Regions from separate parts of the Homo sapiens genome. Here region 2 is linked to region 1. Evidence: fine-mapped expression QTL. A gene starts in region 1. The other region holds a variant in brackets. All regions are shown on one strand. Distances are from middle to middle. Region 1 holds the start of MKNK1 (MAPK interacting serine/threonine kinase 1). Region 2 overlaps MKNK1 (MAPK interacting serine/threonine kinase 1).

Evidence for each region.
Region 2: its variant is fine-mapped to the expression of MKNK1 in whole blood (INTERVAL, PIP above 0.99).

Annotation. Positions count from the first base shown.
Region 1 is chr1:46,596,897-46,612,768 of GRCh38, forward strand. MKNK1 (MAPK interacting serine/threonine kinase 1) reads right to left here and starts at 7,372. Exons shown (of 13, transcript NM_001135553.4): 1 at 7,289-7,372. It overlaps MOB3C (MOB kinase activator 3C), which reads right to left. Exons shown (of 4, transcript NM_201403.3): 3 at 13,106-13,308; 4 at 10,823-12,788. The coding sequence ends at 12,759. RefSeq lists enhancers at 6,686-7,186, 6,954-7,003 and a silencer at 7,334-7,553.
Region 2 is chr1:46,571,711-46,587,582 of GRCh38, forward strand. It overlaps MKNK1 (MAPK interacting serine/threonine kinase 1), which reads right to left. Exons shown (of 13, transcript NM_001135553.4): 3 at 11,518-11,619; 4 at 8,820-8,917; 5 at 4,865-4,944; 6 at 3,237-3,310; 7 at 353-457. The coding sequence starts at 11,617. Among named protein-coding and RNA genes, the nearest start is that of MKNK1, 25 kb to the right of the region's middle. The variant TCAA/T (reference allele first, on the strand shown) is at 9,093.

The sequences.
Region 1 (15,872 bases):
ATGTGGAGGTTTTCAGATACATGTCACAGGATTCTAAGTGCCTGGTTAGCCCTAATTCCTTCTGGCACCATTTAAAATTCCTCTGGTCCCTTTTTCCTCCTCAAAAATTACTTCTGACTCTCACAGTTCTTAAAGATTCTTAGCATTCTTTACCAACTACCCAGATGGACCCTGGAGCCCTCTCCTCATTCCTGTACCTCCTGCTGGTATAGGGCTGGGGTGGGGAAGGGTGACCATGGCCAGACCAAACCTACACAGATCCATCGGCCTGCAGCTGGGTCTTAAGTAGGCTGGGCCTGGCGAGGCACCCAATTCTCTCTCAATTGTTCATGAATTTCTTGCTGTACTGGGAATTAAATTTCTTCAGTGCTTAAGAACTAGACCTTCTACAGACGTTTTAGAGCAAAAAAAAAAAAAAAAATCACCATGTATACAAACAAAAGATCCATCACATTACTTTCAAGACAGAAAACATCAGTGAGGCACAGGTAAGGCTAAGGTTTATGGCATCTCTACCCTTGGTCCAAAAAGCCAGATCTCGACCTGTTACTTCCTTGCTCTAAAACTTCTAATGGGTGTCCACTGCCTCTGGAGTAACCAAGCTTCTGTGCTGTCACTCACGGCCTCCATCAACTTGTCCCAGACCAACCCTCTATGGGAGTCTTAACCTGCAGTCTCGTCAAAAGGGACTGTATTTCCACCTGATTGCTCTAACCAATTCCCAGCTTCCTACACTTGTGCATAATTAAATTACCTGTAACATTTTATTACGCATCTTCCCCTAGACTGTTAGCCAGGGACAGGGTAGAGACTATGTCTCCTTCATCTCTGGGACCCCTACACCTAGCAGAGGCTCTGGTATGGGGCAACCACTTCATAATTGTTAATGAATGGATGGAAACAGCTGAAGTTATTCTTCCCTTAAGCTGTTTTAGCTGGACTCTTATTAGAAGACCGAGTACAGTCTGGGTCACTGCCACAAAGCAGAAAAACCGAAGAGAAAGAAAAGAGGCATGACCAATGTGATCCAAGCAATGGAAAACAGGTTTTAAGAGTGAGGTTAAAGAGACCAAGGCTGTTTAGCCGGGAGAAGAGAAGATGAGGTTTAACTGGATTCTGGCTTTAAGTACAGAAAAGGTTCTCATGAGAAAATCTTGATCTCATCCTCCCTTTAAAATCAGAAGAAACTTTTCCATATTCATGGAAAATGGAACAAGAAGAAATGGCTTAAGTTAAGGCCTGAAGGGTTTAAGCTGGACAGAAAGAAGAACCAAATTAGGCACCACTTTTCCAGAGATACTGTTATTGTACTTTTGGCAAGTGAATTGGAGGAGTCTTGCTTGGCACTCTTGTTGAAGGCTGTGAAAAAAGTAATATATGTGCTGCTCTGTTCCTGTTTACTGTGGAGAGAGGTGAAAACACAAGTCAGGTAAGATTTTCTAACGAGCCACTGATTTTTATTGACCCATTTCCTACAGGCACTTTCTGCCATGTTATGCATTGCAACCATGTGCTGGAACAATCTAGTATCTCAAAGGTTCCTGACAGGGCAATGGAAAGAAAGAGAAGGTAACAATGCGGGGGAAGGGAAAATGGCCCTAATAAATATACTTTCTATAAAAACAGTACCAAACTGGGCATTCATATATTTATTAATATTATTACTATTAAAGCTCACATTCATTGAGCACCTACTGTGTGCCAGGCACTGTGCTGTTGTATCTCAATTCTCATAACAACCCCATGAGGTAAGTAATATTTGTATTCTCATTTTACAGATGAAGGAACAGAAACTCAGGAAGATTAAATAACTTGCCCAAGTCACACAGGTAGCAAGTGACAGAGCCAGGACTCAAACCCAGATAGCCTGACTCTAGAGTCCACATACCTAACTACTGTCTCTCTGTAAGGATGAGAGGCTGGAATATAAACTCTAGTCTCTCTGAATCCTGTTTATATTCTCAGTTCTTCCTCATACAGTCCCAAGCCAGGACATTAGCAAGAGTTGAGGCCTCAGAAGTGAACCAAAATACTCCTCTGATTATCAGCATCTATAAAATGGGGGCAATTACACCCACATCACAGAGTTGTCATGAGAATTAAGTGAGCTAATGTATATGGAGCTCATGGCATCAGTGCCTGGCATACAGTAGGCACCCAATAACTAGTAACTGTTATTCCCGCTTCTGATATGGCTTCCCCAGATCAGCTGTGGCTCTGGAAAGCAACCCAACGACTCTGTGAACCATAACTGGCTGCAGGAGGGAATAATCTGACAGCAAATACAAAGGAAAGAAACAGACTGAGGACTCTCAGATGATAATGAGCAGGTGCAGGACTTGAATGCCAGCCTCTGCACTCCAAGTTAGTGCTCTGTCCTACTTACAGACTCTTGTTGAATTTGAGGGTGAGAAAATGAAGAGACAGGATGTGCCAAACAGGCTGCCTCCCCCGACAGACCCTTTTGTAACGTCAATCTCCCATCAGAACCCATGCCTGAAATACCAGGGTCCTGCAGCTTCTGTAAACTGGTTCTAAGATTCTACTAGCTAAGGATGGCAATGCACTGATTTATGGCACTGTGGGTGCTGCCAAAATGATCACCTATTAAACCTATCAAGCAGACCTAGTCCATGCAGCTTCCAAACTAGGCCAGTGATTCACCGTTTAAGCCTCTTCACTGATGTCCCCATTCTGGGACCATCTTTGCTCCAGTCTAACCTCCGTCCTGCTGCCAGAGAAAACCGAGCGCCAGTCAGGGCATTTGGAGCCTCTAGCATAAGGAAGATAACATGGGCCTTTGAACTCAGCACTGCTAGTTTTGAACCAAGCTGTGCCCTTACTATCTATCTAACCTTGGGGAAGTCACTTTAATCTTTCTGAGGTCTGGTTTCCTCATCTTTAGATTGGAGATAAATAGGCCTATATTACAGGATTAAATATAGTATGTAAAGCAACCAGCATACTGCAAGCCACAAAGCAAAGGAGACACTTTATAAATGCTAGTGTTCTGCTCCCTACTCCACTCTCTACATTTTAGCCAAAATCTGCCAATTCGGCTTACTTCTTCTCCTCACCAACTCCTCTCCCCTCCCACAACACACACACACACACCCCTACACCTGAGCATTTCTGCCTCTCAACTGTTGCTCAAGCTGTTCCTTCTCCCAGGAATAAACTCCCTCCAAGGCCCAGCATAAATTCTCCACCTTCAGGAATCCTCTGGTCATGCTGGGATTGATTTCTCCTTCTTCCAAACTCCCACTTTGTTTACATTCCTTACTACATTTACCATAGTCAGTCTGATTTCAGTTATTTATGTACTTATCTATCTTCCCAACTACACTGGAGGGAGAAGGTTCTGAGAAGACAATTATTTATAGGAGGGCAGGAAATGTGTTGTTTTCCTCTGTGTATATTTCTCAATACCAGGGTCTTGTACATAGCAAGAGCTCAATATGTGCTTACCGAATTGAATCTTTCCATCCTATACTGGGAATCTTTACAGAAAGATCCCAGACTGAGTTCATTCTAAAACTGCATTTACTGCCTAACTTGATAAATAGGCAATTTTTGAAGTACATGAATATTCCTAAACTAAGATCCGCTAATACTCATGTGGGCTTGTTTCATTCCTTCATCCATTCTTCCAATACACTCTGGACTCTTCTTGGGATCTCTCTCCAGCATATAAGGAGACATTGCTGGGACAACACTTCTCACTCACGGAGATCTGGGAGCAAGCTCTTTGGAGAACTGTTCCACCCCACTGGGTAGGAGGTGACTGCCATTAAAACCACACTAAAACCCAGAGTTGTGGAATTGGAAAATAGATCTGAATGATCTGCCTTAGTTTCCAAGCTATAACACAGAGTTAAAAACACTTTTAAAAACAGTGTCTGGAACACAGCAAGTGTGCAATAAATGTTCGATGTTGTATTAACAACGTAGTAGACTGAAAAAACAGAGTCATGACATTTCACTTCTAGAACTATCTCCACTACTGACTGATTCCTTGTGTAATCTTTTTTTTTTTTTGAGACAGAGTCTCACTCTGTCGCCCAGGCTGGAGTGCAATGGCACAATTTCAGCTCACTGCAACCTCTGCCTTCTGGGTTCAAGCGATTCTCCTGCCTCAGCCTCCCAAATAGTTGGGATTACAGGCACCCACCACCATGCACAGCTAATTTTTGTATTTTTAGTAGAGATGGGGTTTCACCATGTTGGTCAGGCTGGTCTCGAACTTCTGACCTCAGGTGATCCACCTGCCTCGGCCTCCCAAAGTGCTGGGATTACAGGCGTGAGCCACACACCGGCCTCCTTGTGTAATCTCAATCAAGTCCTTTCCCCATCTATAAAATGAAAGTGGCGGAACCAGATGGTTGGTTTCCAAGCTCCTTCTACCTTCAACCATGTAAATTTTTCTCTGATCAAGAAATAACTTTCTCTTCCACATGCTGAGGCTGTTGGCAAGGGAAAATGTGCATTTATAGCTGCTGGTCCCCAGATGGGAGGAACCACTGTTTCCCAAGGCCAAGGGCAGAGTAAACTGATTAGAAAACCACCTGTGAGCTTTCCCCTGTTTGAACTGTACTATTAATACACCCAGTGCAGGTCTCTGAACACAGCATTACCTACCTTCCAACAAAACTCACGGTCAAGGCAAGACAAGAGCCTGAAAACAATGGCTGCAATGAAGAATGCCTGCTTGTGCAGAATTCTTGTACTTTCTTGTTTTTGATGCCTGTAATTAGGGCATCAGTCTAAACTGGGGCCCTCCTTAGGCACAAAGAGGAGGAAAAACACAAAGTCCCATTCTGAACCTGACAGCTCATAAAACAAGGGCCAAACCTAGTAAATAAAAAATGTCACTGACTCACTTAACCACAAACACTGAAGAGGCCTACTATGTGCTGGCCCTATGCTGGACAGAGGAGGAAGGAAAGAGACATGGTCCCTTGCCACCCACGTACTCAGAGTACATATGGAGTGTACATATCCCTAGGCAGACTATGATGAGAGCTATATTAGAGGGTCAGCCTTTGCTACAGAAGATGGAAAGGGGAACAACTAATCCAGCAGAAGGCTCAGAAAAGCTTCACCATGGAGGCCACATGAGATGTAAGAGATGTAAGCCTTGAAAGATGAGGAGGAGGAGGGAAATCCAGGAAGAGAGAATATAAGCAAAGGCTCGAGCAGGAACATGCAGGGAGTGTTTGAGAAACAGAGATTTGGCCGGGCACGTTGGCTCACATCTGTAGTACCAGCACTTTGGGAGGCCCAGGCAGGCGGATCACCTGAGGTCAGAAGTTTGAATCCAGCCTGGCCAACATGGCGAAACCCCGTCTCTACTAAAAATACAAAAATTAGCCGGGTGTGGTGGCTCATGCCTGTAATTCCAGCTACTCAGGAGGCTGAGGCAGGAGAATCACTTGAACCTGGGAAGTGGAGGTTGCAGTGAGCCGAGATTGTGCCACTGCACTCCAGCCTGGGTGACAAAGTGAGACTCCATCTCAAAAAAAAAGGAGAAACAGAGACAACTAGTTTATTTTGACTGAAGCACAGGTTGCAGGTTTGGGAAAACCAAGGGAAACAGGGAGGGGAGAGGTGTGGGAACAAATTGTGCAGGAACTTGTCTGAGGCTGGAGTCCAAACTCTACATCCAGCTTGTCCAACCCGCGGCCCTGGATGGCTCTGAATGTGGTCCAACACAAATTCATAAACGTTCTTAAAACACTGAGATTTTTTTGCAATTTTTTTAAAGCTCATCAGCTATTGTTAATGTTAGTGTATTTTATGTGTGGCCCAAGATGGTTCTTCTTCTTCCAATGTGGCCCAGGGAAGCCAAAAGATTGGACACCACTGCTCTATATAGTAGGCAATGATGCCCACCAAGGTTTCCGAGTAGTGTCTCAGGAAGAGCACAAGGGCACCCATGAAGAGGATGCAAAAGGAACTAAGTAATTCAATTACTCTGGGACCACATTACAGGAGACCACATGCACTTTCTAAGCACGTGCTGGGCTCTGACAGCTCCTGTTCACAGAGCTTCCCTCTCCCATGGCTTCGCTTCATGCAATCTGAGTTGCCATCCCCCACAACTGTCAACATCTGCAAAATACCAGAGTAACAGGACTCCTAACCAACTCTCTGGATTACAGAGAGAGAAGTGTTGAGGTGGGAGCAGATGGGCAGAGGGGGCACCAAAGCCTCTAGCTGGCTCAGTTCCATATAAAACCCAACCCTGGATTTCCTCTTCACATCACTTCCAGCCCAGCCCTCTAATGAAGGGCTGAAGCTAAGGAGAGTGGGCTGAAAGCACCTGGCTGATGGGTGGTGATCCAGTGAGACATTACACCTACTGTCCAGCATGTGCCTGGCGCATGGGCAGTGGTGCCCTTCCCATTCTGCAGGGTCAGTTCCATCTGTAAATCCCACTGAGGCTTCAAGGCCCAGGTCACAACAACTCTTCTCTCAGAGCCTTTCTAAAGTACCCCAATCCAAAATGACCAAGCTCCTAGAAATCACAGCTACCATGTATTCAGCACCCATTACATGACAGGCGCCATACTAGGTGACTTCCATATAATCCTATTCACCCTTCACAATGACCCTATTATGGCCATTTCCTAGGGAAGAAAGTGAAGCTCTGGGAGGGGAAGCAGACTTGCCCCAGGACACACAGCTAAGAGGTGGAAGAGATGAGATCTAAACCCAGGACTCCCTGACCCTGAAGTTGAGCACTTCTAACAACACTTCATTCCTGTGAGCCTGCCTGCCTCTGATCTGCCACTGTCAGGGAGCTTGGAGCTCTCTAGAAGACAGGGTGCACCTGACACTCTTATTACCTTTCCCTGTGGACAGCCATCCACACAGGCAGGAGCCTTTAAATACTGAAAATAAATGAAAACAATTAACTTAAAAATAACGCAGTACACAGATTTCACAAATTCCTCACGTGAAAAACTATTCATGATACTGGACTGCCTGAGCCCTGCGCCCAGCCATAGCCTCGGTCCTGATCCCTGGGAGAGACTGAGTCTCAAACGGGCCACAGAGTAAGCGCCATCTCGGACACCGGCCACGCCCCGACCCCAGGCACAGAGGTCGCAGACAGCTCGGGACAGTCCTGAAAAGCGTCCCCTTAGGCTGTCCCTCCGCAGCTGAATCGCGTCGTGACCTCGGGCAGCCGTGAAGGCCCTGACTGCCCCCTTCCGGGCACACGAGCTCACTCACAGACCCCGGCCCCATTTAGCTCGGAGGAATACCTCGCAGGTCTCGCTTTTACCTTCGCTGGCTCCCGCCGGGGAGCGGTCGCGCGCACCCCTACCTGCAGATCGCTCCTCCGAGAACGCGGAAGAGGCGGTGCTAGATCCAGGGGGTGGGCCCGATCAGAGAGGAGGGTGAGGGGGCGGAGCTGCGCCTGCGCCCTGATGGCTACCCAGGGCCGCCTGAGGGCAGGGGGCTCGAGCTGAGCGAACTGCGCAGGCGTGACAGGGAAGAGGCGGGGAGAGGGGAGATTGCTGGCAAGCGGGTGGGGCTTAGCTCCTCCGGCGCTTTCTTTTCCGAATGGAGGGTGGAGAAGCCCGGGAAGGTAGGAGGCCGGGCGCGACAGGTGTAATTAACATGTACTGAGAGCTTCTGCAGGCCAGGAAGGAATTTTAAAATGCCTTTTATATGTGGGGAAATGCTGCTAGTCTTTTCTAAAACGGGGGCCAATTCTGTACAATTTCTTTAAAAGTCTGAGTGCCTAGAATTTCACCATAAGAGTTTCTCCTTGAGTACAACATTATCCCCAGTATTTCAAAATTTTTAAAACTTTTAAAAGTTCATTTCTTGGGGAAAAACAACTGTAAATAGGTTAATGCCTCAACCAGTCTCCCCACATCCCCTTCCCAAGTCTGCAGCTGCGATGAGAAAGGATGAGAGTGTGGACTGGGATTTAATTCAGGCGCTGACTCCGAGTGATGGAGGTGAACATCCCTTCCCTGCCTGTCTCAGGATTATCGTGAGGATTTGGTAAGCCAAGCTAGTTAAAGAGCCCCAGGGACTTGCTTCCCATCATCCACCTGACAAACATTTGTTCCCTGTCTTGTCGGGGCTGTCTTTTCATCTGTATGATGGAAGGAGATTGGGAATATTAGTGAACATTCAGGACTTTGCTAGATTTCCCAATCTGGGTGAAGGCCGGAGAGGCGGAAGATCAAGCTTCTGTGTTCATTCCCTTCTGGAATCCTGCGGTCCAACCTGAGGGCCCCGATGTATCCTGACTTCTCCCACTCATTACCTTCCGTGGAGGCCGATCCAAGCTTCAAGTCTTCAGAGGCCCTGCTGGCCTGTTCCCTTCCCTGTTGCCTGTGGCAATAGCCCAAGAGATTCAGGACCTATGTTCCAGGTTCTCAAAGTTGCTATGTCCCTCACATGGCAATCAAATTCAGTTAACATCTTTGAGGGCTCTGGGGGTGCTCAGAGGAAGGAGGGCTCCCCCAAAGCAGGTGGAGCTCTAGTCATGACTGTGGCTTATTTCACCACATATTCCACAGCTTGCTGTGGGGTAGGGAGGAGAGGCAACAGGAAACCTCAGAGGCTGCAGTGTTTATGGGAGCCGAGGGTGATGCGGCATCCTTTACTCAATAGGTGGATGCTCTGCCCCAGGCTGGAGAGGATGGCTTACTACCTAGGTCCCTGCTCCAAATATTGTTTTGGAATTTTTTTTCTTTTTTTTTTTCTGAGACAAGGTCTCACTGTGTTCCCCAGGCTGGAGTGCAGTGGCACCAGCTTTGCTCACTGCAACCTCTGCTTGGGCTCAAGTGATCCTCCTGCTTCAGCCTCCTGAGTAGCTGGGATTACAGGCATGCACTACCATGACTGGCTAATTTTTGAATTTTTTTAGAGGCAGGGTTTTGCCATGTTGCCCAGGCTGGTCTCGAACTCCTGAGCTCAATGATCCTCCCACCTTGGCCTCCCAAAGTGCTGGGATTACAGGGAAGAGCCACTATGCCCAGCTTTGTTATGGACCTTGAGCCAACAGGAAAATAAAGCCCAGCCTGACTTCTCAACCAAGCTGCCACTCTACCTCCCAGGACCCTTTGTTACTAGGTTTTGCCCCATGGGAGTGTGCTCTTTTATCTGCATCATTGAGGCCCTATCTCTTTCTTTTCCCCTTCTCTTCCTTTCTGTCTATTCTTCTTTAAGCATCCCTCTGTGAATCTCTCAAAGCAATTTTGTGTCAGCTTCCTAATGTATTTACAGATATTCTCATGTAAGGTGCAGGTCTTGGGTCACACAGTTCTAAGATAAATCTACTCTCACTGCCATGGTCATATTTCAAAATGACCATGAACCCAAAGCATGGGACTTGTAACAGTCTGAGCTGTCCAATGACAGAGGAGGTAGTGAGCGATCTGTTATAGGAGGTGTGCAAATAGCACCCTTTTAGAATGCTGGGATTGGGCCTCCTGTGGTGAGCCAGAGGAAGAGGCAGCAGAATGGAGGGCCTTCCAGATTCTAGAGGAGTGACTAAAGGCAGGGATATTGGGGGCTGGAAGGGAAGCAAGGCAGCTGGCCAAAGACACACTTGATTCAACAAGCTATTATATGTCAAGCACTTAGAAGTGTACCTGACACATAATGAACATTAGCTGTTATGATGACTGTGAATGATTCATAGACTATATAATGAAGGAGCTGAGATCAATCAGTCCTTCACTCCCATCACTGATAACAAAATAGATGAAGGGTTGGGGTCTAGAGGGGGAATGGGCTTGCAATGGAACTTCAGGAGCTGGGCTGGGGCTACAACCTATGCCTTTGCCTCCCAGGAGAGCCTCTGCACAAAGCCAGGCTGGCTCCTTTGCAGGAAGAGGGAAGAGCTCTAGATGGGCCTTTGTTGACTCTTAAGAACCAAGCTGCTTTTTAATTCCTGCCCAGGCAGCTTGTGAGTTGGGGCAGTGGAATGACAGCAAGACCTGAGCCAATAGATGCAGATGTCTACTGGGGAGTAAGCTCAGGAGTCAGGCCCATGTCCTGCCACCCCCACCGTAGCTCCAGCCAGCAACAAGTATCTTCCTCTTCAGGATGGCCTCCTGTCCTGTAATTAGTGTTGGGATTGTATTTCCACTCTGTCCTTTTATCTACTACCTCAAAAAAAAACCACCCAGAGTAAGGGGCTGGAGTGAGAATAGCCAATGCCAGGCCAGGCGTGGTGGCTCATGCCTGTAATCCCAGCACTTTGGGAGGCCGAGGCGGGTAGATCACGAGGTCAGGAGATCGAGACCATCCTGGCTAACGCGGTGAAACCCCGTTTCTACTAAAAATACAAAAAAATTAGCTGGGCGTGGTGGTGGGTGCCTGTAGTCCCAGCTACTCCGGAGGCTGAGGCAGGAGAATGGCATGAACCCAGGAGGCGGAGCTTGCAGTGAGCCAAGATCGCGCCACTGCACTCCAACCTGGGTGACAGAGCAAGACTCCATCTCAAAAAAAAAAAAAAAAAGAAAAAGAAAAAAAAGAATAGCCAATGCCAGGCAACCTGAGATGAAACAAGGAACGATTCCTATCAGACTGAGTTCCCGGAAGGCAAAGAAAAGCCAGGCTTCTCCACCCCAAGCGTCCTAGCCTAGCTCGGTCTAGAATTTCCAGAGCCCCAGGAGAATCTTTGTGTCCCCACCCTAGAGAGCTGGGCCAGACATGACCACACCAGCCAGCCCTCCACATGGTCCAGTATCTCAGGACAAAAAGCCTTCCCAGCCCCATTCTGGCTCAGTTCCTTCCATGGTCTGCCAAGAGCCATGTGGCACCCAGATCACCGCTTCCCACCAGTGGCTGCTTTAGTTTGCCTTTTATTTTACCAAAAATAACAACAATAAAGTCTTCCCTCTGTTTCATAAAAATAAATTTTCCAACCCTCCCCCTATCCCAGAAATCAGCCCTTGCCACAGCCTAGAATCCATCATGCAAGTCACAGCACTCTGGGAAAAGCTCCTACTACCCTCGCTCCACAGCCTCTGGCAAAGCTGCCAGGCCACTCTGGAGGCGGCAGAGGCAGAAGTCCCAGGCCCAGCTGGCTGGGCCCAAGAGCTCCATCTGTTTCCCCAAAGTACAGGCAGCTTCTAGGCCATTGAGTGGGGCATGATATTGGATGCTTGGCTCAGGAAACAACCCCAGCCAACCCAAGGGGCAGTGGGACATGTTGGCCTCAGGTTAGAAATTATTGCTCAAAGCAGAAACAGTTGTGTCCTAGAGAGGGTCTGTTAAACCCTCTTTCCATGTGTATCTCTATGTAGCAATTGATGGGCCCTGCGGTCAGGATCCCTGGTTTCTCCAGCTCCATGAATGCCTCCCTGTGAGGCCCTGGACAGTTTCTCCCTCTTCTTCTCCTGGCTTCAGTTTCCCCGTATGTACATTGAGACAGTAAGACTGGATGATTCTCAGGTTCCCTCTGGCTTTCCATTCTGGCATCCCAGAGTGGAGGCTCTGGGAGGGCAGAACCCTGTTCCTGCCTCAGTTTCCCCACCTGTGGGTCTGCGTATAGGGCTGGGTATGGAGGTACTGAGTAATGGAGTGCTGCGTGAACATCCCAGTCTCCCTGTGGATAGCTGTGCTGTGAGATCCAACTGGCTGGAATGTGTCAGGGATGGCTGGGAAGGAGGCAGGTACTTTTAGGATGGAGGATCTCCATGCCTGGAAGAGTCCATTCACCAACTACATCCTCAATGTGCTGGGATGGGAGACAAGACTCCAAAGTTCCCAATTCAAGTTCCACAAGCTCCTTGGACGGGGAGATTATTTTGTGCTGGGCTTCAGATCCGAGGAGCCAGGTCTGTAGATTCTGGGAGCTAGAGTGGAGTATATGATTCCCAGATGAAGGGCCAGGGGACCTTTGTGTACTTGAGGGATCATCTCCAACCCCCAGGAGGACACGTATAATACAGGCCTTCTTGGAGGCAGAGGGATGAGTAAAATGTCAGCTCATGGGCATCTCTGGGTAAGAGAATCAGAGCCTGTGTCTGCAGTGGGTCGGTTTAGGAACTCAAGGCAAGGCTCCTCTTCCTACGTTCCCCCAGCTCTCCAGGACTCATGCTGATGGAAGAGTGTAGCCTGGAAGGTTTGAATGTAGAGCAACATCTACAACCACATTTTTGTGCACTTACACACATGGTCAGATACACTGAGTGGGGACGCTGAGCTGTCATCACTCCTACAGTGGTCATGGTCTGATGGTCCCATGGTCTGATGGTCCCAATCTATTTATCCATCCATCCAACATTTATGGAAGGCCTACTATGTGCCAAGGAGGGGTAAGGCAGCTAGCTCTCACAGACACACCCCACAGTGAAAATCACACACACACACACACACCCCGGCATCTGTGCTCACTCACAGGCAGACTGCTCACTTTCTTGCACCTTTCTTGCCATCACCTCGGCCACACCCACATTCCTCCAATAGGCTTGGGAACCAGCATGGAAGGGTCAAGTGTCATAGAAGAAACCCCCTAGCCTACCCTACTCCCAGACTTCATGCCAGAGGTTTAACTCCACTTCCCTTCTGTTTGCCTGCCTAGATGCTCTCCCCTTCTCCATCCACAAGCGGTCAGGGCGACAGGTAGGCAGACTCCTGAGAACCAGAAGTCCAGAGGCTTTGGGTGTGTGGAGTGATTCCAGTGCCTTCAGATTCCTTCAGGCTCCTGGGGGTCCCCTCTGCCAGCCACCCTATGTTCAGATCGTCCATCTGATGGCCAAAAAAGTCCAGACCTGGGCTCAGTGGCAGATCCGCTCTGTCATCTCCCTCTGTAGAGACACAAGGTAGGGAGGGGTCAATTAGAGCTCAGCCTACTAGGCAATCCCTTCCCAAACCATAGGGCCTAGCTGCTCTTCTGTCTGAGCCTGGCCTTCCCCCAGCAACCCCAACTCTTAGGCTGCAGATCTGGGTTTGTAAACCAACACTTGAATGAATTCTCTATTGAAGTACAGAATTCACTGTTAAATGAATTGCCTTCCCCTAATTCATCTACTTGGGCGTTGGAGTTACTTAAAGCAGGCAGCTTTTGGACGTGAAAACTCAGAGGCTAGCCTTGGTAGGGGAGGGTGGTAGGGCTTGGCCTCACCAGTGGCTCCAGCTCCCGCTGGTCCACCAGACTGAACTCGCGGATGAAGTAGTAGAAGTGCTTGTAGCAGGTGTTGACGTGCGCCTCTGCCCCCATGCTGAGGATGCTATCGAAGTGGTGGATGTAGACATGGACAAAGACTCGGAAGAGGCGGGTCAGGATCTTGGTGCAGACCTGCTGGAAGTTCTTAGGGAAGGGAACTCCTAGAGGGCAGGGGAGGGCAGAAGGGGATCAGTATCCTGGTGCCAAAGCTCTGCTCAACTTTTCCCTCCCACACACAGGCAACCAGGATGGCTTTTTCCCCAGCACACTTTTTAGTACACTTCCCTTTGGAAAACAGAGAGTGGTTTGACTTTCTCCCATACTTTTCTTTCTTTCTTCCTTTCTTTTTTTCTTTCCTTTTTGAGACGGAGTTTCACTCTTGCCCAGGCAAGTGCAATGGCATGATCTCGGCTCACTGCAACCTCCACCTCCCAGGTTCAAGGTATTCTCCTGCCTCAGCCTCCCAAGTAGCTGGGATTACAGACATGTGCCATCATGCCCAGCTAATTTTGTATTTTTAGTAGAGACAGGGTTTCTCCATGTTGGTCAGGCTGGTCTTGAACTCCTGACCTCAGGTGATCCACCTGCCTCGTCCTCCTAAATGCTGGGATTACAGGCATGAGCCACTGTGCCTGGCCATACTTTTCTTTCTAATGAAGCACAAATCTGACTGTGGCTCTCCCCTGCTGGAATATACATCATCTTCCACATTTTCCCATTACCTAAAGCAGGGCTTTGCAAACTTGTGGGGGTCACTGACCAACCCTTTTTAGACTATGATAAAAGTTACGACCTAAACTCTCCCCAGAAATATGTGCAATTGCAGAGATGCTCACATCACACTCTTGTATACAACTCCAAGGAGAGTTCAACAACTGGGTCCATTTAAAAAATCCCTGGGCCTTCAGGATTAAGTCCTAACTTTCCAGCAGGACGCTGCTCAAGGCCTTTCATGATCTTATCCTGACCTCCCTCTCTAGCCCCACCCCATGTCCCTCCTCTTTTCAACATTCACACAGAAGTCCTCAGACCCCCAATCCTGGAAATTATGAATTCTGCAAGAGTTAGTTCAGACAGCCCTCATTCCTTCAAATATTCAACAACACGAAGAACCTTCCATTTATGAGCAAGGCCTTGTGCTGGGCCCTTCACACCTTTTGCCTCTAATCCTTAGAACAATTCGCCTGATGTGTCTGATTGTCACTTTAGATATGATAAAACAGAAGTGCTTATAAAGGTGAAGCTGCTAGCCCAAGGCCACATAAGTATTAATCAGTGCAGAATGGAGACTGGATTCAGACCCTCTTTGCAGTGCACTGCAGCGACCCTCACAGATATTGGGACCCATGAAAAAGGCCCCGCTTCTGCATAGTCCCCCATGCTCAAGGCAGAGATCTTGGTGGCTTATGCCCTCTTCTCTGTGTGGCAGTCACCCAGGGTTTTAGGCATCGATACCTGGAGTCCCACAGGCCCAGGGAGGTATGGCCAGCAGGGACTATGAATCTACATTCAGGTCCACAGCTGGCCCACCCGGCTCTGTAGACCCCCTCCTCTTCCTCACCATTCCCAGGTGGGGTCGAGCCTTCCCTCCCTCTGAGCCCCTCCAGCCCAGCCCAGATTCCTCAGACATATCCTGCCCATGTAGACTTGGGGTCCTGGGCTCCCACAGATCTGAGCCCCAGTTCGGAATTCCTCCCAGTTCAGTGCACTTTCCCTCAGTAGCCTCAAGTTTCCTCCTATGTAAAATGAAGGTGCTCCTTGTCGGGCATGACAGTGCAAGAAACAGCAGGCCACTGGCTGGGGAGGAGCCGTGGGCATTGAATTGTGACTCAGTGCCCAGCTTCCTTCAGCATTCAGACTTCTCCCCTCAGGGCTTGACCACCCTGCCCCACCCACCGCTGATCCACACAGCCTCTGCAGAGATGAGCTCCAGGCCAGGTGGGGGCTGGGCCCAGCTACAGGTGCGGCTGGTGTGATGAACACAGTGTCATGCCTGCTCAGCTCCTGGACCAACAACCCCCTCCTGCTGCCCTCGGGTGGGTAAGCAGTGCCTGGGTGACATCACTCATCTCCCCTCCCTACCCTCACCCGCCCAGGCTGCCCAGCTGAGATAAGAAAAGGCCCCACAGCCTGTGCCTGGCAAGGGAAAATTCTGTCCTCAGAGCCCCAATCTGAGGTGATGATACCACCAGGGCCCACCCAACCACCAACTCCCTCCTTTTCCTGAGGCCAGGAGTCAGAGGGAACCCCGGGAGGCTGGAGGTCAAATCAGCTATGAACACCTCGGGGCAACTGTTCTGGAAGGTTCTGAGAATCACAGCATCTGTGGTCTTGCCAGAGTGGTCCTTGGTGGGACCACTTATGCTTTAGAAAAGAAAAGCCCTCTGAGGTGGGTGGATCACCTGAGGTCAGGTGTTCGAGATCAGCCTGGCCAATGTGGTGAAACCCTGTCTCTACTAAAAATACAAAAATTAGCCAGGCGTGGTGGTGGGTGCCTATAATCCCAGCTACTCAGAAGGCTGAGGCAGGAGAATCGCTTGAACCCGGGGGGCAGAGGTTGCAGTAAGCTGAGATCTCACCACTGGGTGAAAGACCGAAACTCTGTCTCAGAAAAGAAAAAAAAAAAAAAAGAAAGAAAGAAAGAAAAAGAAAAGAAAGAAAAGCCCCAAATTGGGAGTCAGGAAGTCCTAGCAAATGCTTGACCTTGAGCAAGGCACTTAACCTG
Region 2 (15,872 bases), 25 kb before region 1:
TGTATGAGCTTTATATTCCTCACACGATAAGAATCTAAGAAAAGAAACATCATCCACACACAGTCACACATACCCTGTTCAATGTGAAATTTATTCTTTCTCCTCCCTGCTCTTTCTCCTGTATCCCTGTGCTGCTCAACAGCTTCACCACCCACCCACCATCCGCAGCATAAGCCTAGGAGCCATCCTGGACTGTTTCTCCCTCAACTCCCATGGGTGAGCATGTTCACACCTCAAGCTGCCTTCCAGCCACACCATCTCCTGCACCAGCCCTCTGCCTGGCCTACCACCTCCCTTGGTACCCAGAGGCTGGCCAGCCCAACCCACCCACCAAGGCAAAGGCTGGGTTCACCTTTGGTATGCAGGAAGTCAAGGGCAGCAGCAACGTCCCGCACCACTCGGCTGGCTTCTCGCTCATTGAAGTGCTTTTGCTTCTGGATGTGGGCTAAGATGGAACCTGGGGAGCAGAGGGGACATAGAAGAATGCCTTTTTGGGCTCTAGTAAGTATAAGTTTTTTTTTTAGACGAAGTCTCACTCTGTTACCCAGGCTGGAGAGTAGTGGCACGATCTCGGCTCACTGCAACCTCCGCCTCCGGGTTCAAGCGATTCTCCTGTCTCAGCCTCCTGAGTAGCTGGGATTACAGGCAGGCACCACCATGTCCAGCTAATTTTTGTACTTTTTTTTTTTAGTAGAGATGGGGTTTCACCATGTTGGTCAGGCTGGTCTCGAACTCCCGACCAAGTGATCCGCCTGCCTCAGCCTCCCAAACTGTTGGGATTACAGGCGTGAGCCACTGCGCCTGGCCGTATAACTTCTTAGAGGCCAAGTTTTCCCAAGTTTGGAAAACTTGGGGTGGGGACATAGGGATTCATCGCTGACTCATCACTACCTGTCCAGCTCCAAGTGTGGGGCCTGGTACGGAGGAGGTACCAGCTTGTATGTCTGTTAAACAAAACTGGACTACTCTCTTCTGTACCTGTCTATGAGGAGCTCAGAAGCGAGAGAGAACAACTATAAATAGGGCCAAAAAACACTAATGATGCTGAGGCTGATTTGGCTTCTGCAATCAAAAGGAATAAAACTGAAGGCACTTGGAGCTGAGGGGGCCTTTCTGCAGCAACGTTTTCTCCCCTGCATCTGATCTCTGATCCAAACAAGAGCACAAACTTTCAAATGGAAATGCCACACCCTTGCCAGACATGTAAAGGCCTGGGAAAAGGGGGGAAAAATGGGTTTTCCGCCTGAGCTTTCCCATTCATTATTGTTTTGTTGGCAATGGCTAACATTTACTGAGTAGTTACTAGTGCCATGTGCTATGGAATACTCTTGAAATAAACTGTCTTATTCTCACCACAATTGGACAAAATGGGTAGTACACTTATTCTCGTTTTACAGAGGGAGATCCTGAAGCCAAAAAGAAAAATGGTTGAGCAACTTGCCCAAGATTACGCACCAGTAAGGGGTGAGGCCAGGACTTAGGCCCAGGGCGTCAGTCAGGCCTCCGAGTCTGTGCAGACATCCCCCAGCAGGACTTGTGGTCTGACTGCTGCAGGGATGGACTCTCTTGAGCCAACCACACTGGGTCTGGCCTCAATAAGCTACATTAAGTTTACTGATATGGCGACAGAGGATCCCATCTGCATGTAGCATTTCAAACATGTAATTAACAGTCAGTCATGTGTTATTGGGTGGTGCAGGGGCAGACACAGGCAGGAACATGTGGCTTGGCTTCATGTGGTTTATGTTTACTACTAGAAGCCAGCATTTCTGGGCTGAAGGTATTATCTCTCTGTCCTAAAAATGGCACATGTCTACTGTTTTTTAGGGGGGATGGGGAGGGCATGAGAGAAGGGGAAGAACTGCCAAAGATTGTTCGCTTGCCAGATTAAACAACGGATCCCAATGTGCTAGGGAACATTCCCAGAAAACCGGCTCATGACTAGGTCCTAGCTTGCTCTGCTGTAGTGAGCCTCGTTTCCAAATCTGTTAAAAGGAAAAGCAGAGAATAATGCTTTACATACTTTTTTTTTTTTTTTTTTGAGACAGAGTCTCACTCTGTTGCCCAGGCTGGAGTGTAGTGGTGCGATCTCGGCTCACTGCAACCTCTGCCTCCCAGGTTCAAGCGATTCTTCTGCCTCAGCCTCCTGAGTAGCTGGGATTACAGGCATGTGCCAGCACACCCAGCTAATTTTTGTATTTTTAGTAGAGCCGGGTTTCACCATGTTGGCCAGGCTGGTCTTGAACTCCTGACCTCAAGTGATCTGCCCACCTTGGCATCCCAAAGTGCTGGGATTATAGGCGTGAGCCACTGTACCTGGTCTACTCTACATACTTCTAAGACATCCCCCAGCATACCAAATTGTTTTAATAATATTAGCAGCCAACATTTATTGGGCCCTTAGTGCCTACCAGACACTGTCCTAAGCATTTCACATGAATTATCTCATTTAATCTTCACAGCAACCCAGTGAGGTAGGTGCTATCAATATCTCTATTTTATAGAAGGGAATATTGTTTAGAAAAGGTTAAGTGACTTGCCCAAGATCACATGGCTAGTAAGTGATGCAGCTAGACATAACATAAGCTTTAGCTGTGTTGGTTTCTAAAGCACGCTCCCTCAACCACCAAGCCCCTCCGTGTGGCCCTCCATGCAGTTCCAGACATCCCTGCAAGTGTGTCCTAAGATTGGGGGAGTGATGGGAAGGGAAAGGGTTTCTCTACCCCACCTCATTATGTCAGAAAAGCAACTTAAGTATACACCCCAGTGATTATGTGTGTGGGTGATGGCATCTTTCCATCTGAAGGATGGCACATTCTCAGGCTTCCCCTTTATCCTGGGTCTGTGTCCCAAACAATAGGACCCTCCTCTCCTCTGTTTTAGCCTTTCTAGACTTCGCAATGTATTTGAGAGCTTCCACCCCATAATTAATGTAGTTAAACAGTGAACATGTCAAAACGGGATTGATAAATCGATGACTAAATGTATCTATATATGACTCCTATTATAATGAAAAGGCATTTATAAAATACCCACACAGGTGACATTCTAAGCTCTGCAAAATGCTAATTATCATCCTTCCCTCCGGCCTCCCTTCTCCCAAATCAAGGGCAGTTTTTAAGTCCTTCATCCTTTTTATTAGCTTGACTCGTTTTGGAAGTCTCTGGGATTCATGATGGATGATCACCACCCTGGGTCTTAATCAGAAGTCCACACACATACTCAACGGTAAGTACCTCCTTGCAATTTCTCAAAGACCAAGTAAAACCTTGTGTCATCTTCAAAGAACTCAATCAGCTCCAAAATGTTCCTTAAATAGGGAAAATAGGAGGAGAGGGAAAAGGGGGGAAATGGTATTATATATTAAAGTCTACTTACAAATATACAATGAAAAAAATATACAACACCTGGTAGTGGGGCAGAAACCAACTTGAAATCAGAATGCTTATTAAAGACCCGCGTATGGAAGCAGCCAATGGTGTTAGCAAGATTCAGGTCACCTTATCTTTCCATAATGTTTAGTCTCTGGTGTTTTCACCAAGTCTGTGCTGTCAAACCCCAGCCCTAAAACCCACTAGGTAGAGTTATAAAAAAGTCCCGGTCACATTAAACTGAATAAAATCTGCAGCCGACTGGAAGCAATTGCGGCTAATAACACTGAATACTAGGTGTGTGTCCTGGAGGCAAGCAGCAAATAATTACTTGCCCTCCCTCTTGCCCATAAATCACGGGGCAGTATTTACATTGCCTGGAGAAAATGGAAACATCTGTCAAATGGACTTGGGGCCTAACATGGGCACCGCTAGACCCTAACTGCTAAGCGCTGCTTAATGAAACGGCCGCGTTCCTGGCCACTGTAGCACTTGTGGCCTTCCCCGGTGAGCACTCTCTGTCTGCCCGAGTATTTCAGTGCTCTGCCAACAAGGTCGTCTTGTAACTCAGTAGGGAAGCCACCAGCCTGGATATTGGAGGTGTTGTGGGCTTTTTTTCTTTTACAAAATAAAATAAACCAAGTAGAGTCTCTAATGCTGAACTAAGAAGCTGCAGGGCTGAAAATAAAAATCTGTCCCTCATAAAAAAAATGCTGACTACTTTGGGAGATATGAGGCTTTTACTAGTGTGAAGGCATCCAAATAAGATGGGCAAAATGGCCTAATTTGAAAGAAGATTGTGGAGGCAGTGCCTGGAGTTAAATCAACAGCAGCCCCCGTCCTCCAATCCTCCAAGCTTAATGACAAAGCCATCAATACCAGGCCACTGGCTCCCTGCTGACCCTACCGTGGAGGGAGAGAGGGGGAAGTGGAGTCTTAGAGGTGCCCCTGATTTAAAGCCACAGTGGGAGAGCTGCTCATTTGGAGCTGGTGGTGGGCAGAATGAACTGGGGCTAGAGATGAGCCGGACCCAGCTATCTGGAAGGTTCCAGGATCTTAGTGGTATCTGCACATATGTAAACATTCTAGGAGCAGAAACAGCAGCAAATATTCTTAACAGTTCTCCTCATCTTGGTATTAAGGCAAGTCCTTAAAGATTTCTACCAGGCAACACTCAGTCAACCTAGTTTCCACAGGTACCGAAAGAAATAAAACCCCATTTCCCCCCAACAACCACTGATTCAGATAGTTCATTCTTCTAACTTGCTTGAATTGATGATATTTACAGTATTTCAGAAGAGATAATAGCTCCTTTGCTGTTACTGCTGCTTTTCCTTTCTCTCCCTAACACTGAAAGGGGCGGAAGGAGGTACCTGCCTTGTGGGGACAGGAGTGAGAGCTAAATGCTGGAGTCAGGAGATGGTAAGAAATAGCCTCCTCTTCTGTGGCCAAGCGTCCCCCCAGAGAAGCAGCGAGAATCACATGATACTCACTTGTTTCCCTGACACTGATACAGCGTCTCCACCTCTCGAAACACCCTACTCCGACTGTGCCCTGCTTGTTTCTCGATGATCTGTGGGAAGAATAAAATCTGTCATGTACACCCACCTGACTTCCAAACAGCCCTTTGGCAGGAGTCCTCTGGGAGAATGCAAGGCCACACTCAGTCCAAATCCAGTGTCCAGCAGAAGTCTGGCCTAGGCCTTGGTGACACCGGCACTGTGGCTCTGTTGGCAAAGCAGCAGACTGGCCTCAGGGCTTTCCAGCTCAGCTGAGCCCATTCCACTCTGGCCAAGCACAACACCAAGGAAGTGAATGAGGCTGCTGCCCCCAGCTGCCCAGGGGAGACTGAGGCAGCCGGCAAGACAAAGAGCTACCTTACTCAGCTCCACCTCCTGTGGACACCTCTTTCTGCCTTAAGGGTAAGCATTTACTGCATCTACTGAAGGATCTTCTCATGCTGGAGGGAGAGGCTGATGCAGGACACCGTGGCGAGGAGCTAAAGCTTTGACACCCAGCTCAGAGGCTGCCTCCACGATCCCCCTGGCAGAAGTAGGCTCTTCCTCTTCTGAGAACTTACTCTCTGGCAGATACTGTGTTAAATGATTTATTTACGGCCGGGTGTGGTGACTCACACCTGTAATCCCAGCACTTCTGGAGGCTGAGGTGGGTGGATCACCTGAGGTCAGGAGTTCTAGACCAGCCTGGCCAACACGGTGAAACCCCGTCTCTACTGAAAATACAAAAAAATTAGCCAGGCGTGGTAGTGGGTGCTTGTAATCCCAGCTACTCAGGAGGCTGAGGCAGGATAGTCACTTGAACTGGGGAGGCGGAGGTTGCAGTGAGCCGAGATTGTGCCATTGCACTCCAGCCTAAGTAACAGAGAGACTCCATCTCAAAAAATAAATAAATAAATAAATAAATAAACAATAATAATTTATTTACATAATCTCAGTTGACCTTTATGACAACATCAAAAGATAGGGAGGTATGAAACATTTGCCTGCAGTCCAGAGCTGACTCCTAAGCCCTTGCTATCCCATACCTGCTTAGATGCTCTAACTTCTTCGAGGACCTGGAGGCTTTGTCTCTCCTGTGATACGGTGGGCTGCTCCCCCTCCACACTTTTACCTGAGATGCTTGTCAAATGCTGACTGAAGGAACAGATAAGCCAACAGATGGGAGGGTGGTTTCCAAAGGGACTGGCTGCCTCTGCAAAGCTCTCTGGACCCATCTGGAGCCTCAAACCACTGCACACCGAGCCTGTGAGCAAATCTGCAGAGCCTAGCTCTGCCTTACAGCTCCAACGTGCACAGTGGGCAGCACAATGACATCCTCTTCCTTCATTGAGACTTCAAACTTCTCCGATATGATGTGGCACAGACATCTGTGACCAACTGCAATTTTCTAAATAAGTGTGTCTGTTTGTAAACCACAGTGGGCCCATTATCTGAATGGAGAGGTGTAGTGCTGGGGAACAGAAGTGATTCAACTTCATTCCCCAAGCATTTCAGATCAAAGTCATGAAGAACTTTCTAGCAGGCAAGCCTTCCACAGCACAGTCTTCTCTGAGGAAGTAATGGGCTCTTGCTACTAGAGATGGGGGAGCAGAACATGGACAACTATCTGGGGAGTCAGAGGAAATTCAGGGTTATCTTGAAATTCCATCCCAACCTTGAGAGTCTAGGATCAGCTGGGTGCCTATAGGAAAAGCTGTAATAAGCTAAGTATTGTGGGGCCATGTTGGGAGAAGTAGCCCATCTCTAGGGAGCTTTGAAAGAGTAGGGGAGAGAAGAAACATGGGCAGAACTGCTGAAACCAAGGAATTGCCAAGCCAGAGTCCAGTGTTTGCCTCAAAGATGCCAGGGGGGATGTGGAGGAAGGGCCAGGTTTTCCTCCCATTATCCAACCTTGAAGAAATATACCTCTCATCCATAAATGTATTGAAACCTTTGAAAATCAGTTTATGTTTGTGGTTTTTACCGCATTTAGACAGATATATCAATTTTTTTTTTTTTTTTTTGAGACAGAGTCTCCCTCTGTTGTCCAGGGTGGAGTGCAGTGGCACCATCCTGGCTCATTGCAACCTTTGCCTCCTGGGCTCAAGTGATCCTCCCACTTCAGCCTCCCAGGTAGCTGGAATTAGACGCACATGCCACCACACCAGGCTAACATTTTTTTTTTCTTTTTGTGACAGAGTCTTGCTCTGTCGCCCAGGCTGGAGTGCAGTGGTGTGATCTCGGCTCACTGTGCAACCTCTACCTCCCGGGTTCATGGGATTCTCCTGCCTCAGCCTCCCAGGTAGCTGGGATTACAGGAATGCACCACACCCGGCTAATATTTTTGTATTTTTAGTAGAGATGGGTTTCACCATGTTGGCCAGGCTGGTCTTGAATTCCTGACCTCAGGTGATCAGCCCGCCTCAGCCTCCCAAAGTGCTGGGATTACAGGTGTGAGCCACATGCCTGGCCTAATTTTTCTATTTACACTTAGGCGTATGTTTTAAAAATCACTTGTAATTTATACTGAGCTGTTTCCCAAAAGAAATTAAGACAGTGCTCTTGTTACCATGTGAAGCAATACTCCAGCTGAAAGGAACGTGGCTTAGCAGACTTGCTCAACCTTCTAACCCGCAGCTGGGACTGTGGAAAGTTGGTTCAAAGAAGAGAAAACATTTCCTTCAGGAGCCCACTGGGCTGGGATTGCCAATGTGAGGTGGCATTTGACCTGGTGGCTCAGGTGGGTGATTTGAAATCAGCTTGGATTTAAAAAGACCCTTTCTCTAGGTCAGTTAGTCCTCAAACTTTGGTGGCTATGAGACTCAAGTGGGGAATCTGGTCAAGCCACAGAGATCCAGACCCTATCCTACATCTGGAAACCTGGATCTGTGTGTGCTTTGTTAGAGCTCTAAGGGCTTCTAACACATAGTAGCATTCACAACTGCCCTTCCTACAACAGTAGTCCTCAAGGATTAGTGAGTGTCAGAGTCACCAGGAGAGTTTGTTAACATTTGTATTGCTGGGCCCACCCCTGTTTCTGAGTTGGTACTTCTCAGGTAGGGCCAGGTAGCTTCTATTTCTAACAAGTTCCCAAGCGATGCTGAGGCTGGTCCAGGGCACACATTTTGAGAACCACTGCTCAAGATCCAGCTCTTCTTCCATGTGGAGAGGGCAAGTGGAGGCACAGAGGGGTGACATGAGCCACTCCAAGGCCTTACAGCTAATTAAAGGCAGCAATGAGGCCAGAAGCCACTTCTCCTGCCCCAAAACTGAGTGCTCAGTCGCTTTAGTTTTGTTTTCTTCTTTTAATTTTTTTTTTCTGAGACATCATTCAGATGTTACCAAATCAGTCACCTTAGTTTTTAATCCTCACTATCATGCTAACATCTAACACTTGGATAGCATTTTGTGACGTGTAAAGTGTTTCCACCTCTCCCAGGATATTTTAATTTTCATCTTCATAACTGCCTCAGGAGACTGAAGGGCAGGTATCATCATTTAGAGATGTAGGAACTGAGGCTTACGGACATTTGATGACTTGCCCAAAGTCAAACAGTTATAGTTTGTCAAAATAGATATTCAGGTAGGCCTTCTAATTCCAAATCTGGTTGTCCACTCCCTGAAGCTGACTTCATTTGTCAGAATAATGAGAAACTTACTATGAGCCAGGCATTGTGCTAAGCACTTTACCTATATTAACTTATTTAATCCTCACAACAATTCTACATAGGTTCTAGTATTATACCCATTTTACAGATGAGAAAACTGAAGGACAGAGAAGTTAAGTAACTTGCCCGAGGTACACAGTAAGTAGAGAAACCAAGATTTGAATCCAGTGAATACAGCTTCAGAGTCCCCATTCTTATGGAATATAACATTTATTTGGTTCAAGATGAGCTAGGAATGACTATTTGCAAAGTAAAGCCTGGCATTCAGCTGAGACACTCACTTTGACGGCATACTCTTTGCCATTCTGTAGGCTCACGGCACCTTGAACTTTGGCATAGGCTCCCTCTCCAAGCAATTCAGAGGTCAGCTTGTACATATCTAGAGGTGAAATGGATGAGAGGAATAACAAGATGAGTCACCCTACTGCAAGCTCAGATGGGAAGAACTTTTGTGGCTCAGCTTCCCTGATCAGACGACACAGGCACCCAATGACTCTAGCACTCAGTGACAAGGAAGACAAGTAGCTTTCCCAGCCACCTGAGGACCCAGTTTC[TCAA/T]CAACAAGACCACATACAAGGCATCCTGTTCCTCATTTTAGCGATGAGGTTAGCAAAAGGGTCTCAATTCGGCACATACTTCCTGAATATCTACTATGTGCCAGACAGCATAACAGAGTAAGGAATAAAATAAAGGCCAGGTGCAGGGGCTTACACCTGTAATCCTAGCACTTTGGGAGGCCAAGCCAGGAGGATTGCTTGAGGCCAGGAGTTCAGAACCAATCTGGCCAACATAGCAAGACCCCATCTCTAAAATATATATACGCATGATCCCTCTCCTCTAAGGGTCGCAGTCCAGTGGGGAAGACAGACACATACACAGGTGACCCCAGAATAAACCAGGCATTGGTAAATACTATCACAGAGGGACAAAGTACAGTTAAAAAAAAAAGTTGGGGGAAGAAAGGGTTAAATCTGTTCAGAGAGGCTGGGCATGGTGGCTCACACCTGTAGTCCCGGCACTTTGGGAGGCCGAGGTGGGCAGATCAAGAGGTGAAGAAATCGAGACCATCCTGGCCAATGTGGGAAACCCCGTCTCTACTAAAAATACAAAAATTAGCTGGGTGTGGTGGCACGCGCCTAAAGTCCCAGCTATTTCGGGGGCTGAGGCAGGAGAATCGCTTGAACCCGAGAGGCGGAGGTTGTAGTGAGCCAAGATCGTGCCACTGCACTCCAGCCTGGTGACAGAGTGAGACCCCATATCAAAAAAAAAAAAAAAAAAAAAAAAAAAAAATTGGTCAGAGAATCTGGAGGATCATCAGAGGAGAAGTGGTATGATTTGAATGAATATTCATTTACTCATTTACTGAGCACCTATTATGTGCCAAGTTCTGTGTAAGCACTGGCTATACAAAGGAGAATAAAACACTGTTCTATTTTATACCCCATACATGGAAGTCATTGGAGGCTTCTGAGAAGTCTCCAGAAGTCACCCACAGGAAATAGAAGTAGGATGCAAAGGACACCTTGAGGTTTTTAGGGTACTGAGTCATAGTTGTTCTAACAGAGTAATAGACCTGGGTTAAAGGAACATCTAGATGACCTGCCCAAGCTCACAAAGAGCACAGCTCTTTGAGCCCCTTCCAAAGGAGGCTACATCTCCATCACAGCACTAGCTGCCTGACCTCATCCCCACTCGGCCTCCATTCTTCAGCCTTTTCCTCTTGAGGCACCTAGCATTGAAACCCACAGCCTGAGCAGAAGACATTTCAACCATGAATTAGATTTTATCACTCTCAGTCAGGAGAAGTCCTGTCATTGCACAAGCTGTCCTTAAAAATAGGAAGTACTCTCTTGTGTTAACTGAAAGAGCAAAAGAGCTGTTGATTAGGAAACTATTTGAATACCTTGGGATCTTTGTCTCTCCCCCATCCCCATACCCTGACACACACAGACACACACACACAGACACACACCCCTGCTGTTTGAGTTAAAGGCAAACAAAAAACCCCTGCTGAAAGTACCTTCTTGGTTCCATCACGGTTTGGTCTTTCAGTTGTTTATAAGAGCAGATGGCACACTGTTATTCGTAAGTGTTTTAAATGACATGCTTCTCACAATGGACACATTGGCATTAGCCCTTTACACATATCAGGATAGGTGGGTGGCTGGAGGTCCCATATTCCCAACCGATAAAGTGCTTGTTATTGGAACCACTTTACAGAACAGCCAATTCACTAGTGTGTCTGGAAGGCTGGAAGGAGGGACCAAGAGGCGAAGCTACTTCAGACCTCACAACGAAAGAAAACAAAACAGATGAAGTGGGGCACGTTACTCCTAGGAGTAGCTACTGATCCTCTTGGTGCTTTGCACAAGTGTCCAATCACCCCATCACATGCCCAGTGATAACAGGACCCACACTGAGCCTAGTGCCTCGCACACAGAGAGTGTCAAAAAATGTCTGATGACCCAACATCGTTTCTACTGAACACAACACGTATTCTTTAAAATGTAGTCAAACACACACAGCATAAGTAGCTACAATCTGAGAGACAAATTCTCTGCTTACAGGAGACTGAAGTTTCATTTGCGGCCATGGCCTTTGGTGTTTCTCTCTTCCTCTTATATAGTTCTATCTCTCAGCAGCCCCTCCAGGAATAGCTGAGGGAAGAATCACATCTGAAAAAAGGAAGACCCCAGGCAATGCCACTGATAGATGGGTCTTCCTGCTCCCTGAAAAGGAAGCAGTACCTGAGCCATTCACAGGAGGCCAGTGCATCATCTGAGAGCTTTTTCCATCCCTGCTCTCTTTCTGTAATGCCCTGTGTAAACTCCCTCATCCCCATCTTATCTCCCTACCACACAGATAACCACCATCTGGCTCTAACTTGACGCATTCTGTGATCGGACCTGTGGCTCCCGGGATGCTCCTCCCATGCTTGGGAAGCTGCAGGCCCAGATATAGGGAAGTTGTGTGACCAACCTTCAAACTTTCCTGGCAAGGAGTCAGTGGCCCGGCCCCTCCGCTTCTTCTTCCTCCTCCTGTCACCATCTGCGATGGGAAGGGGTTCGCTACTGCCCATCTCTAGGAGATAAGAGGAGATGTAAGGGAAACATCACTGTACTGATCAAGCTGTAAATTTACCCAGAAGGAAAAAAAAAAGGTAGTGGGGGAGGACCCAGGAGGTTTACACTGATGGTTTTTAAATATCTGTGAAGACTATTGATTTGTTTTGACCTAGGAGGAAAAACTAAAGGCAAAGCCATTATGGGAGATCATTAACTGTGGAAAGGAGCTCAGACAGGCAGGCTAGATTAAAAGAGGCCAGCGGAAGCCTGCTTTAACCAAGCTCATTAGCGCGTGGATTTAGATCTGCCACTGGTCAAACCATATTCCCCAAACAGAACAATGACTCCATAGGCAGAACCCCACCTGTGACATCCTCCAGCCTCAGCATCAGAAAGGCAAAACCGAGAGAGCTAGGCAAGAAGGGGGTTGGGAGTGGGGGACCATGCAGATGAGTCATAGGCTCAGCAACATCGCTATGGATGCACACAGGGCACAAATGGCCTGGAGTGGAGACAGCCTCTGTGAAGGTAGCAATAGGGCTGGGGTTCAAAATAGCCCCAAATTACTTCATGTCCAAGAGCACGGACTTGAGTGCCTATGGAGCCTACGGCATCCTCTCCTCCCATAGCTCCTCCATCGGAAGGGCTGCAGGTAGTGCCCATTCAGAAGTCGGCAGTTGACAGGTCTGTGCCAGGCTGCTGGATGAGGTCACTTATTGCAAAAAACCTTATTATCTTTCATTGGCAAGCACCTGGCTCCCAATCTTAAAAGGAGGATTTGTGAGGCAGGCATTCAGACACTGCACAGATTGGGCAGAAAAAGTCCGGATGGAAAGAATAAGCAGGACACTGAGATAGGAAAGAGAAAAGGAGGAACAGTGAACCAGTGCCCAATCACAGTCCTGTTTCTAAGACACTCTAGTATGGGCCTTTCCCTGTTAAAGATAAATTACTTATAGAACATGTCATGCCCCTGATCCAGAGTGGAGCTTTAATACTCTTTGCCTGCAGTTAGAAATAATAAGATTTCTCCGAAGTCTCTGGGTCTAAATCCCCACCAGCGTGATTAAACCTTTACATCCTTCTAAAATAGAGGCACTCGAGTGCTGATGGGGCATACGATGTGAGAGACTTTTAGACCAACCTTCAATAAACACAGGCTCTTGGTTGTTGGTGTTTTTTTTTTTTTTTCTTTCTTTTTTTTCTGAGAGCTTTTAAAATGGAAGCTGGTTCTTTGCCCATTGAGGGGAAAGGCCCACTCTCTTCTCAGAGGATCTGGCGGCATACGACCAGAGAAAGAGCAAGTCTGCTAGGAAGACTGATTAGTGCTCATGCAGGTCCATACACTGTTCTCAGACGCAAGTACGTGACAGCCATCCGGAGAGAGCACACAGGATGGCACTTTCAACACCACAATCCAGAAAGCATGGTTACGCAGCCAAGTGCCTGACAGCTCAATTTAGGCGCATTCTTCCATCCATTTTGGGGATCTGATGACAGCACATTTTAAATTATAGTTTAGAATGGGGAACAGATAAACACACAGATAAAAGAAATCCACAGAGCATCTCAAAATATAACTCTAGCCAAGAGCTTCAAACACAAGATATATCTGGGGACTGCAACACCCTATGAATTGAAAGAATTAAACATCTGGCTAGGCACCATGGCTCACGCCTGTAATCCCAGCGCTTTGGGATGCCGAGGTAGGCAGATCACTTGAGGTCAGAAGTTCGAGACCATCGTGGCCAACATGGTGAAACCTGTCTCTACTAAAAATACAAAAATTAGCTGGGTGTGGTGGCGGGTGCCTGTAGTGCCAGCTACTCGGGAGGCTGAGGCAGGAGAATCGCTTGAACCTGGGAGGCAGAGGTTGCAGTGAGCCGAGATCACGCCATTGCACTCCAGCCTGGGTGACAGAGCAAGATTCCGTCTCAAAAAAAAAAAAAAAAAAAAAAAAAAAAAAAAAAAAAAAAAAAAAAAAAAAAAATCAGCACCTCAACACCCACCCTCACCAAGGTAAATTAAAAGGAAAAAAGCTGCCCAAATGTATAACATGGTGAGAAATTCAGCAGAAATAAAACACAGGGTCACTCATCTTCAGGAGCTCAGGGAGGGGGTGCTGGCCATCGGGGCAGCAGGCTGAGAAGGAGGAACCATTGTCTCTCTCTCTTGCGCTGACCTTGAATGCAGTCCAGTGGCAACCCGTGTCTGCATCTATTTTCTCATCGGCACCGCAGGCCCAGTGCAGAGGAAACAGATTTGGGTTTCAGCTCTTTCTCCTTCCCCTGTCCACACTTTGATGGAGGGCCCCAGGACAAGCAAAACAGCCAAAAGACAGGCAGAGCAGAGGAGCAGCAAGAGGGCTGGAGGCATTATAATTCACAGGGGACACTCAGGCACACGACTCTAATGAGAAAACCCTGTTAGCGACAATTTATACTTGGTCTTTACCACAGCAGGGCTGAGGGAGCCGCTTGCACGAGAAGCATACCTCACAGCACCACCGCACACGTAACATTAGATTTTATGGCTTCACACACACACAAAGACAGAGTACCTGGTATATTCTGCATGGATTTCAATGAAAGAGGGTACGCCAGAAGGGACAAATGGTTAAGACTTTCCTTGGAAATGGAACTTGGAGAGTTGTTTCTGAAACTAGGAAGGAAAAAATGTAGGAAGATGGGTGAAGTGAAAGAAACATGCTTAGCTTCCCTGGTTACACAGGGGGAAGCGAGAGGTGTCATAATCTCACCAAGGGGTCGCTAGTTGCCCATGTGGAGCCTGGCCACACACTATTTTCATCACAGAGTCCACTAGCAGGTCTGTGGGGCCTTAATTCATCATGCAAACACTCATGGGATAAATGCTGCCTCAGGGAGTGGGACCCCCGCAGTAAAGCTGCACCTTGGCTCACCTGCTTCCCTTGGCCTAGGAATTCTTCTTGGTCATCAAAAGCCGGCTCGATAGTCCCAACCCTTTTGCAGCTCCCTGATAACTCCAGATGAGTTAAGGTTTCTACAGAGACTCTGGAAGTCAGTTAGGTGCTATGCAAATGGAGGGTGTTACTGAGCAGAACTAGTAGTTGGTGCTCCATCCTCTGCTCCCAAACACCCTGCGAGAAGCTCCACGAGGGCACTGATTTTATTTGGCCTTGAGTGCTCCCCTGTGTTCCTAAAGGCTGAGATTGTCCCCTGTTCACTTGTTTCTCCTACAGATCATGGCACAGTGTCAGACACATAGCAGCCATCAGAAATTGCACTGAAATAGAAATGATATGAAATGACATGCATACTGTTAGGTGTGGGGTATGTCACACTGGCCTTTTAGGTACCCAGTGCACATCCTGAAAGAAACATGGGTACAACTTTGCCCTGTAGACAATGCAGAGTAAGGCTACTTAGTTTTATGAATCCAGTTCAGGAATTCTACTAATTCCTGGATAAACTCCCTTTCGAAAAAGGGTCTAGGACACAAAACGTCCTTCACTTTCTTATCTTTTCTTTTCTTTTTGAGATGGAGTCTTGCTCTGTCACCCAAGCTGGAATGCAGTGGAGTGCAGCTCAGTACAACCTCTGCCTCCCGGGTTCAAGCGATTCTCCTGCCTCAGCCTCCAGAGTAGCTGGGACTACAGGCACATGCCACCATGTCCGGCTAATTTTTTGTACTTTTTAGTAGAGACGGGGTTTCGCCATGTTGGCCAGGCTGGTCTCAAACTCCTGACCTCAGGTGATCCGCCTGCCTTGGCCTCCCAAAGTGCTGGGATTACAGACGTGAACCACTGCGCCCAGCCAGGTCCTTCACTTTCTAAACAGAAGCCTGGTTCTTGCTATAGGATTGGGCAATGTGTCTGTTATTACAGAGGAAGAAGTGAGCACTTCTTTTCAGTTTCAGGCAGATCCCAGCTGGTCTGGAGGCTCCCAGCACTTCCGCTGCCTCCAGCCCTTGCCTTCCTCTTGGGAACGGCTCGGCGGTCCACCACATGTGTCTATTAGTGGAGGTGGAAGTGGAACTGAAGAAGCAGCATGCTGCTTGCTGACAGGGAAGGCACACAGGCTTGGCATCAGGCGAGCAAGGCAGAAGCCCTGGTTCAGATATTATAACAGAACCAAGGCCAAGTTACTGTGCCTCTTAGAGTCTCAGTTTCCTCATCTATCAAATAGGTTTAAAAACACACCCGCCCTGTCTACCTCACAGGTTGTTGTAAAGACCCAATGATGGCCAGGTGTGGTGGCTCACACCTGTAATCCCAGCACTTTGGGAGGC